Linked DNA regions of Homo sapiens. The protein of the gene in region 1 interacts with the protein of each later gene in a biochemical or structural test. Each region holds a gene or a part of one and is shown in the gene's direction. Other genes may lie near its edges.

Region 1 (3,917 bases):
AAGCTTTGCATGTGCCACCTGCCACACGGCAGCTTTGCATTGAAAGAAACTTAGAAAATTAGGAAAATGTGGGTTTCCTGGTAAGTTACAATGGCTTCTTTTAACATGTTTGGTTTTCTTCCCAATTTGAAAAGCATGTTTATGTTGACACTCCAGCTAATGTAAACAGATGGGATCTAACATGTTCTTGAATAGTTCATATTCACTACTATGTTCATGATTGCTCTTTCTCGGTGAATATGGGGACCAGTAGATACGCAAGTAACATTAAAGGAAACCTTTTCTTTTGCAGTGTCTGCAGTGAAGCACTAAGTTACTTCCTCACTCTAACATCAGAAAGTCATCGAGAAGCCTGGACTAACTTACTGCTTTTGTTTCTAACTAAAGTTCTAAAGATAAGTGATAATAGGGTAAGTATGAGGCTTCGAATCCAGCCCCACATTTCTAGCCCAATTCGCATTGGGATGCGGGGTCCCAGAGCCGCCGTGCAAGAGCTCTCAGAGATGAATCAAGCAGTGCCCAGGCTGCACTGCTGCTTGTGCAAAGCCACCAGTGGCCTTGCTGTATCTTCCTCAGTCCTTGCTTTTCTCCCCCCTTACCCAGCTTTGTTCACTAATTAGCAGTTCTCTAGGGGATTCAGTAGGCGAGGGATCAGAATCCCTTGGGATACCTTGACAAGTTCCCATTATGACCCCAGGAATCTCCCCCTTTGCCCCATTTTGAAAACTGCTGTCCAACCACCTCATGGCCTTGTACTCTGCCTACTACTCAAGACTACATCTGGTTCCTGGGCCTGTGCTCTGGGCTGCAGCTGTTCCTTTGGCATATTTAGTGGTTCCAGGTAACCCAGAGTCCCTAGTGAATGGGCCTCATCTAAGAATTTTAAACCAGTAGAAATAAAGATAAAATACACATATATGACTGTAAATATAAGTGCATATTTAAGGTTTTCAAAAATGTACACTCTATTCTTAGAAAAAAAAATAGCAACTTACAGCTCACACATACAGGCTGCTTTGCTGTGACCCTAGAATAGGTTTAAAAATGCCTAGTGATGTGGCCCACTACTTGAAAGGCCAAGGGCTCTAAATCCCAGCCTCTGTTACTCCACAGCTGGCTTTTTTTTTTTTGGTCATAATATGTCTCACTGCTTCCCTGGATCTGGAGGGGTACAGAAGGGGTAGGAAAGGAGGCTGCAGACTAGAGTTCAGAGATGAAGGAACTACTGTGAAGATACAGCCAAAGTATAGCAATTGAACTGTACATGTGAAACGTATGTAGCTTTGCCTGAAGAACTGTTTAGATTTTATATTGCAGTGTTGGGTAGAATTTTCCCCAAAACTTAAAATTTTTATGTAACAAAAGATAAAATTTCAGTAACCCATAGCTTATAAAATCTCAACTCTAGTTTGTACTCACTTGCCTGCTGCTTATTACCCAGGAAAAACAGTGCTAAATTACTAAAAGTTTGTCAAAGATATACAGACAAATGTTTTTCAAAATAAGGATATGTAAGTGAATAGTGTTTGTATGAAGTGAGTTTTTCTAACACTTCTGTCTCTCAGTTCCACAAACCAGAGTCACTGCCTGCTGTGGACCCTGCTTTCCTGGCTCCTGTGATGGAGCCCCAGAGTAGTTTGACTCTAGGCAGTTTAAGGCTCTGCAGTTTGCAATCACTACTAATGGAGAAATTCATTTTCCCTGCAGTTTAAAGCTCATGCATCATTCTACTACCCTCTCTTATGTGAAATTATGCAATTTGACTTGATTCCTGAACTTCGTGCTGTTCTTAGAAGATTTTTTCTGCGAATCGGAGTAGTTTTTCAGATATCACAACCACCTGAACAGGAACTTGGAATAAACAAGCAATGATGGGAACTTAATATTTTTGTTGGCATTTACATCCCTCTGCTCTTTAAAAGGACGCTGGAGCTGAGGTTTCCTACCTGAAAAATGATTTCTCTGGATTGCAGTGTCTGAGTTACTGGTAAAGATGCTTAGAAGTCTTACTCAAACTTGCAACACTCCAGTCCCTTTTAGTGCTGGTGGATTTTGTGTGTTATATTGGCCTCATGTTGAGCAGAAAGCCTGTTTAAACAGTGTCAGCTCATGCTCACGGGTCCTTCCCTGTCTTCCACGGCAGGAAAAGCCCCACGTTTTTGGCAGGTGTGGAAGTGAAACTTACCCAAAGAACTATAGATGTAAAGATTGAACTTCTACAAGAAGTACAACTCAGGAGAGCTGTATTTTGAAGGATAAAATGTTTATAATTGGGGAGTGGGGAGAGAAGAAGAAATTATTGTTCATGGTAAAAGATATTTAGCAACTATGGTATTCTTATTCTGAAGATTTTTGCACACTCAGGCTATCTGAGATACTGGTAATCATCCTGTGAAAAATGTACAGAGATGCAGGTCTGTAATATAAAAATCTTAAAACATTATATAGTTCTTCCTGCACTGTTTTCTTTATTTTCTTATTCATTTGCTAAATACCCATAATATTTTGTCAAATGCACTAAACATTTGGGTGGAACTTTCTTTTTTATTTTATAGGGATTTTTAGTTTTGCCCTTTTTGGTAGGTGGTGATTTTGAGGCTGTAACATGCCCAGAAGCTGTTGTGGCCGACACTTCAACAATAGGGAAAAAAAGGTAGAAAATATCCCTACTGACAGTAACTACCTGTCACATATTTCTCTTAGGACTTTTAAAGATGAGCCATTAAAATAGAATGATCCTTTATGGACCAAAACTTGAATCACTGCAAAATGAATCCAGATTGCTGTCATTTTCTTTTCTTTTGGGTGGTGGGGCTTGATGTAGATTTTACTCTATGTACAGAATTTAACGTTGAATATATTAAAATAACAAATCTGGCATGGTTTGCGGAGGTTAGATTTACTGGAAATGTATTCATACTGTGAATTGTGCTCTGATGGTTAAAAGACAAGATTGTCAAGCATTCCGTATTAACAGTGGATGTAGAAAATTTTTTCAGATGGACAAAATGTATATGGTACAGATGTAAAGTTTTCTATGTAAAAAATTCTGTACAACTTTCTGTACAATATTGATTCCCATCTGGCATATTCTAATCAGGTTATAGGTCAATAAAGTTTTTGAATTATTTCATCAGTGCAATCAAAACCTGTATAACCCACCCCCATGTTTCATTGATTCTGGTCTATTAAGGCTGAACAACTATGGAAAAGACATTTTCAGCCAGAACTACAAATTCAATATTGTTTGGTTCTGGTATTTTCTTTCCAGCTTCTAGCATTAGATCCTCCTTACACTGTACTTACCATAGGATACTTATTTTTAAGGCAATTTTTAAAATTTTTATTTATCTTTTAGAGACCGGATCTCACTCTGTTGTCCAGGCTGGAGTGCAGTGGTATGAGCACAGCTCACTGTAGCCTCAAACTGGGCTCACGATTCTCACACTCCACCCTCCCCAGTAGTGAGGACTGTAGGCACACACCACTACACTTGCCTAATTAAAAAAAAATTTTTTTTTTTTAGAGATGGGATCTCACTATATTGCCCAGGCTGGTCTCAAACTCTTGGACCTGAAGTGATCCTCCCAACTCAGCCTCACAAAGTGCTGGGATTATAGGCATGAGCCACCATATCCAGCCCAAAAATCTTTTAATATTTTTTGCATATTAATAACCTAGCATCAGGCTACACTACTTGAATGCTGAAAAGAGCTAAAGTTCTCTTCAGCACAGTTTGCAATATTGTGTGTTCGAGGAGTCAGTTGAAGTTGTGTGGTACATGGCATTAAACAAAAAGGGAACGTGTCAATATCATCTAACATGGTTGTGTTAAAGAGGAAAAGTATTCAGTCTTTGCTTTCACACCTCTCTTAGATAATGAACAGTTACTGAACAATGCATTTGTAAGTAAGTGT
Region 2 (7,293 bases), on another chromosome or scaffold:
GATACCTTTGAAGCCCGGCCTGTACAGGGCATCCCAGCTCTCTCATTCTGCCAACCGGCAGTGCGAGGGTCCTTGTTCTTATCTTCCTGATACAGAAACAGGCCCAGGCAGGTGATGACTTCAGAGATGGTTCCTTGAGCTTTCTAGAAACATGCAGGATCCTTAGTAACCTTTAACTGGGGAAACCCAAATCTCCAGGGCCGTTTCTCACCCGCATCACCATTGACAGTTGGGGCTGTGCACTGTAGAATGTGGAATAGTGTCCCTGGCTGTCACCCATGAGATGCCAGTAGTATTCCATCCCCTCCAAGGGGTAACAACTGAAAATGACTCCAGCCATGGCCACGTGTCCCCTGGGGGCAGAATCACCTCCCCCGCCAGGTGAAATGTGATGCTCATTAGTAAAACCTGGTTCCCCTCTAGGGCCCATCATTGCCTTGGTGGGTCCTTGGTGTTTGTGGAGCCCCTGAGGAACTGCCACTAAGAGTGGGAACAGGGGCAGAGACCAGGAACTGAATCCTGCCATCCAGTCAGTTCTTAATCAGGAGGGAGCGGGTCTTGATAAAAAGGAGGAACCGTTAGGAACGGACTGTGGGAGGGTAGGCAACGTGCCCGAGGGTGGACAGCGGGTGCCCTTGTCTTTTCTTTGTCTTGTGACTGACCTGGATTTCTGGAGGAACTGTCCTCGTCTTAGAATGATCTGTTGCTTTTCTTCTGAGATTAGAGGTATTAGATTCTCTCCCAAGAGCTACTTTGGAGGTTGCCCCGGATAAACGTCGCTTTTGTAAGCTGCATTATCTCTTCCATGGGCCCTTTCGCCCGCCCGTTCCCAAGCACATACTGCTGAATTTTTGTTCTTGGTCCATCTTGCTGTCCCCTTCCCTGCTTGGCCCCCTCCTTGACCGTGACTTTGCTGCTTTACCTTGATTGGAGGAGACGCTCTGGGGCCACGGGACTGACGGTCCCTTCTGGGTGCTGCCCCCACACCCCACCCACCAGCCCTTTGTGTGCCCGGCATCCCCAGCCCAGCTGTGCCAGGCTGCCCCTGCTCGGCCGGCCATTCAGACGGCCCCAGGCGGCCTCTCGGCAAAGCAAGACAAGCCCTTCTCTTCTGCCCTCGTGGTCCCTGGAGTGGCAGAACAAAGGGCTCTGTCTCCACACCAGCCCACCGCCGCAGCCCAGAGCCCCGTTCCCTTTCAATTTCTATCGTGGCTGGGAAAGAGCCTCAGAGATTAGGCATGTTTCAGAAATGCAGCTGACGAGTTTGGGTTCTACTCATTTCCTCAGCGAGACTTTCTGAGCCCGAGCCCGATGATAAATAAAGTAGTGATTCAAGGGTTCAGCCCATGGGTTCGTCGGAGTGATGAATAAGATATCCTTGTCTGACTCACTTGTTTAAAACCCATCTCTGCCCTGCTGCACAGGGCTGTATGTGCAAGAGAAGGAGCCCCGCTAGGGGTGTTTCATGACTGTTGTTGCTGGGTGCCTGAGTTTGCTAGGGCTGCTGTAACAGAACCGCACGCTGGGTGGCCAGAACGACAGAAGTATATTGGCTTGCAGTTCTAGAGGCCAGACGTTTAAGATCACATTCAAGATCAAGGTGTTGGCAGGGTTCGTGCCTTCGGAGGGCTGTGAGAATCTGTTCCACGCCTCTCTCTGTTGGCTCATACATAGCCGTCTTCCCCTGGGTCTTCACATCGTCCTCCCTCTGTGCCTGTCTCTGTGTCCAAATTTCCTCTTATGAGGACAGCAGTCATATGGAAGGGGGCCCACCCTAATGACATCATTTTAACTGAATCATCCCCATAAAGACCCTGTCTCTAGGCGAGGCTTGGTGGCACACGCCTGTAATCTCAGCCCTTTGGGAGGCTGAGGCAGGAGGATCACTTGAGGCCAGGAGTTTAAGACCAGCCTGGACAACATAGCAAGATCCCATCTCTACAAAAAAATACTAAAATTAGCTAGACATGATGGTGAATGCCTGTGGTCCCAGCACTTTAAGAAGCTGAGACAGACAGATCGCTTGAGCCTGGGAGTTTGAGGCTACAGTGAGCTATGATCATGGCACTGCATTCCAGCCTGGGTGACAGAACGACACCCCCATCTCTTAAAAAAAAAAAAAATCCCAAATATACTCATACTCTGAAGTTCTGAGGTTTAGGATTTCAATATGTGAATATTTCTTTGTGGAGGGGAGTGGTGGACACAGCTCAGCCCATAATACTGAGAAAAGGACAAATTCAAATTACATTTTTATTTATTTGTTTATTTATTTTGGGGGCGGGGGCAGAGTCTCACTCTGTCACCCAGGCTGGGGTGCAGTGACGCGATCTCAGCTCACTGCAACCTCTGTCTCCCAGGTTCAAGTGATTCTCCTGCCTCAGCCTCCCGAGTAGCTGGGACTACAGGCGTGCGCCACCACGCCCAGCTACTTTTTGTATTTTTAGTAGAGATGGGCTTTCATTGTGTTGACCAGGCTGGTCTTAAACTCCTGACATCAGGTGATCAGCCCGCTCGGACTCCCAAAGTGCTGGGATAACAGATGTGAGCCACCGTGCCCGGCCTCAACTTACATTTTTAGATAATATAGGAACCTGGAGGGAAATGATCGTGTCAATAGAGAATAGGTCCATTTTGTCTCTTCTCACTCCTTTAAATAAACACTTTAAGGGTGAGCAGGTTGGTTGGCCACATCAATTTTGGACGCTCCCTGTTTTCCAGATCTCACACTCATACATTCAGGGGTGACTAAAGAGAGGTGAGAGGCCTGGTGCAGTGGCTTACGCCTGTAATCCCAGCACTTTGGGAGGCCGAGGTGGGAGGATCACCTAAGGTCAGGAGTTTGAGACCAGCCTGGCCAACATGATGAAACCCAGTCTCTACTAAAAATACAAAAATTAGCTGGGTGTAGTGGCACACACCTGTAATCCCAGCTGCTTGGGTGGCTGAGGCAGAAGAATTGCTTGAACCCAGGAGGCAGAGGTTGCAGTGAGCCGTGATCTTGTGCCACTGCACTCCAGCCTGGGCAAGAGAGTAAGATCCCATCTCAAAAAAAAAAAAAAAAAAAAGAGGCGAGGACCCAGCCCAGGGCGGAGTGGGTCCCATGGGATTTTACAGGGGATGTGTTGAGGGCCAGGTCCACAAGGCTGCGTGTGCCTGGTGGGGAAGCAGGATGAAGTTTACAAACAGGGCATGGGGCGGGGGTATATCTCTGTTCTCAGTATTGCCAGGGTCAGGGGCAAGGAATATCCAAAAGTAACTACACTCTTGGACCCAAGTGACCTTAGGACCAACTGCTGTCACAAGTGATTGAACAAAAGAAGTTTCTGGAAGGTCTTAAAATCCTTCAGCAAAAAGGAAGTATTGGCTGGGAGCCAGGCTCAGAGCTGGCCCTTGGGGAGACTGAGGAGAACAGAAATAGCCCTCGCCTCTGTTCAGATGTTCAGCCAGGAGTCACGAGCATGGAAGTCAAATTAACAGCCCAGTGGGGTCTGTGAAGGTGCCGGCAGCAGGCGAGCCTGTGACGGGAGCCTGCCTGGCCTGGGGACTCGCTTATGGGGGAAGTGGGAGACCTGAGAGCTTCCCCAGTCAGCCGTGCCCTGGGTCTTCTGCCTGCGAGGTGGGCACCGCTGCTTCCTCACGAGTGAAGTCACAGCAGCACAGCAGCAGTGGGAGGCTCAAGGCTTTGCTGTGGATCTTCCTGGGCTCACTGCTCAGAGCATCTCCACGAGGAGGCGTCTGCCACCTCCTGCATCCCATTCCAGGGCAGACGAGATCGGGGGCAGGAGGGTGACATTTGAGATTTTGATTCCCAGGGTATGGGTACTCACGTGGGGCTTTAATTTCCTGGTGAATGTGCCATGGGGGGCAAGGGGTAGCTTGCCCACTGCTTGGGAAGACCCCTGGGGTCCTTGTCTTGTCACGTGGAGATGCTGTTTATTGGGTAGGCACAAGAACAAGAGAGGCGGAGAAAGTGTGATCGTACTTATTTGGCCCATAGGTGCCGTGGAAACTGGTTCCTTTCCCCTGGGTGGTCCCTCGGGAGTCAGGCCCATGATTTAGCAGGGAAGGGAGAAGGTAAGGGTTGGGGTGTCCTGGAGTGCAGAAAGTGGCCTGAACCGGGGCAGGTACGTCCTCAAGGCTGGCTCCCTCTTGCACTCCGCACTCTCAATATCCTGCAGCCAAGTGAGCGTGGGGTTGGAACCATGCTAACATGTCAAGTGCCCGTGGGTCCTCGAGGAGGCTGAAAGTGTGTGAATCTTGCTTTTTTTTTTTTTTTTTTTTTTGAGACAGGGTCTCACTCTGTCACCTAGGATAAAGTGCAGAGGCATGATCTTGGCTCACTGCAGGCTTGACAACCTCCCTGGGCTCAAGTGATCGTCCTACCTCATTCTCCCTAGTAGCTTGGGACTACAGGCTGTCACCACCACGCCAGGCTAATTTTTGTATTGTTTATAGAGACAGGGTTTCACCATGTTGCCTGGTCTTGAACTCCTGGGCTCAAGTGATCACCCGCCTCAGCCTCCCAAAGTGCTGGGATTACAGGCGTGAGCCACCACGCCCAGCCACTTTTCTGATTGATTTAAAGCATATCTTCTCAGCTGCAGCATTGGTGACATTGGGGGCAGATCATTCTCTTGGGTAGCAGCTGCCGTCTGCACTGTAGGGTGTTGAACAGCATCCCCGGCCTCCACCCTTCAGATGCCAGTAGCACCCCCTGCTCTGTGTCTGGATAACCAGAAATGTCTCCAGACATGGCCAAGTGTCTCCTGGAGGGCAGAGTCAGCTCTGGGTGAGAAACACTAGTTCCGGGTTCTGTTGACTCCTAAGTGACTTTGCGTCTGTCATCATCTGACTGACCGAAGTCCTAGGATGCTGCCCTCTTTTTTTTTTTTTTTTTTGAGACTGAGTTTCGTTCTTGTTGCCCAGGCTGGAGTGCAATGGCACGGCCTCGGCTCACTGCAGCCTCCACCTCCCAGCTTCAAGTTACCGATTCTCCTGCCTCAGCCTCCCAAGTAGGTGGGGTTACAGGCACCCGCTACCACGCCCAGCTAATTTTTATATTTTTAGTAGAGATGGAATTTCACCATGTTGGCCAGGCTGGTCTTGAATTCGTGACCTCAGGTGATCCACCCACCTCAGCCTCCCAAGGTGCTGGGATTGCAGATGTGAGCCACCATGCCCAGCCCGCACATTTAAATACACAAAGTGAATGGGGAAGGAGAGAGGAGAGAAATCAGAGAGGCTAGGTGGATTCTCCTGGTTAATAACCCTTTGGGTTAATAACCCTTTGGGGGCCAAGTGATTACATGCCTGTAATCCCAGCACTTTGGGAGGCGGAGGTGGGAGGATCCCTTGGGCCCAGGACTTCCAGACCAGCCTTGGCAACATAGTGAATCCCCGTCTCTACAAAAAAGATACAAAAATTAGCCAGGTATGTTGACACATGCCTGTGGTCCCAGCTACTCAGGAGGCTGAGGCCGGAGGATCACTTGAGCCTGGGAGGTTGAGGCTGCAGTGAGCCAAGATGGTGCCACTGCACTCCAGCCTGGGTGACAGAGTGAGACTCATCTCAAAAAAAAAAAAAATTATTGGGAATGTATTCTGTGTATTCTGGTATTTAGTGTGAGGAAAGAATCAATTTTTTTCCAAATAATTAATGTAGGGTCTCTCACCCTCAGCACTGCTGATATTTGTGGCTGGGTCCCTCTCTGTGGTGGGACCCTGAGCACCACGGGGTGTGGACCAGCATTTCCAGCCTCAACCTTCTTCATGTTGGTAGCATCCTCCCTGTCCCAACAACCCTTAATATGTCTCTGGGCCAGGCGCAGTGGCTCACATCTGTAATCCCAACACTTTGGGAGGCTGAGGCAGGCAGATCACTTGAAGCTAGGAGTTTGAGACCAGCCTGGCCAACATGGTGAAATCTTGTGTCTACTAAAAATACAAAAAAAAAAAAAAAGAAAAAAAGAAAAACACACACACACACAAAATTAGCCAGGTATGGTGTGGTGCACCTGTAATCCCAGCTACTTGGGAGGCTGAGGCAAAACAATCGCTTGAACCCGGGAGGTGGAGGTTGCAGTGAGCCAAGATCATGCCACTGCACTCCAGCCTGGGCAACAGAGCAAGACTCTGTCTCAAAGGGAAAAAAACATGTCTCGGGACAGAGGTTGCCAAGTGTCCCTGAGGACAGAGTCAGCTCCAGGGGAGAAACAATGATATAGAAGAACACCAAGCTTTTGAGGGGCAAGCAGAGCCTGTTGAGACCTACAGGTCAAGCCCGTGACTGGCCTGAGGTGACTTCTTTCTCCCCTGCCTTTGTGGTGTGATCACCAGGGTCCCTGGCACAGGGATGAGCTTCAAGGGGAGCTGGGGAGTGGCTGTTTCACCGAAGACACTGGTGGCAGCAAATCCTGAGACCATTGTCCCCCACCATCCAGTTCCGCTCTCAGGTGATCAGAAAATGGAACGAGCTCCCTGTGTCCTTTGTAGAAACCAGGCAGAGGGTGGGTTTCATGGCCAGGAGGAGGAGCATCTGTCTGAAGGCCGCAAGGGCTGGGTCACAGATGGGCAGCATTGGGAGATCCTGGCAGGCAGAGAGCACTCCACGTGGAAACTAGAAGCATGGGGCAGATGGGGGGCCAGGTAGCGAGCCACCTAGGCAGCTCAGCAGATGTGGAGAATGGGAATAAACTTGGGGGGTCTTTGGGGGAATCAGTGGGATAGGTGATAGCTAAAAGGTACAGGGTTTCTTTTTAAGGTGATGTAAATGTTCTAGCCAGGGGCAGTGGCTCATGCCTGTAATTCCAGCTCTTTGGGAGGCTGAGGCAGGAGAATCACTTGAGCCCAGAAGTTTGAGACTGGCCTGGGCAACATAGGGAGATCCCGTCTTTAATAAAAAAAAAAAAAAATTGAAAAATTTACCGAATGTGGACTTGCACCTGTAGTCCCAGCTACTCCAGAAGCTGAGGTGGGAGGATTACTTGAACCCAGGAGTTCGAGACCGGCCTGGGCAACATAGGGAGACCCCTGTTCTTACCCTGGGGATGGCTTTCCTCCGGGCGTGACGACAGATGAGCTGTGTGATTGCACAGCAGGATACAAGGGTTTTTCCTCTGCCCTTCCAGACCCGCGTCCCTGGCTGCCCTCCCTATCTTCGTTACAAGCCCACAGGTCACCCGAGAAGGACCTGCAGCCCAGCCACCACCCAGTGGCTCTGCCTTCTACCTGTGACCAGAACCCACCTGTGTCTCATGGGCCTGACCCAGGCCACTGTCAGCTCCCGCCAAG

Evidence for each region.
Region 2: the proteins of ARFGEF1 (region 1) and MYO9B form a complex in vitro, tested with the Homo sapiens proteins (one study listed by IntAct).

The regions. Positions count from the first base shown.
Region 1 is NC_000008.11:67,196,889-67,200,805, reverse strand, and holds the end of ARFGEF1 (brefeldin A-inhibited guanine nucleotide-exchange protein 1), read left to right. Parts: intron 1-292; coding exon 293-410; coding exon of another isoform or gene 411-620; exon of another isoform or gene 621-916; intron 917-1,707; coding exon 1,708-1,872; 3' UTR 1,873-3,148; downstream 3,149-3,917. UniProt on the Homo sapiens protein: Promotes guanine-nucleotide exchange on ARF1 and ARF3. Promotes the activation of ARF1/ARF3 through replacement of GDP with GTP. Involved in vesicular trafficking.
Region 2 is NC_000019.10:17,078,763-17,086,055, forward strand, and holds part of MYO9B (unconventional myosin-IXb), read left to right. Parts: intron 1-7,293. UniProt on the Homo sapiens protein: Myosins are actin-based motor molecules with ATPase activity. Unconventional myosins serve in intracellular movements. Binds actin with high affinity both in the absence and presence of ATP and its mechanochemical activity is inhibited by calcium ions.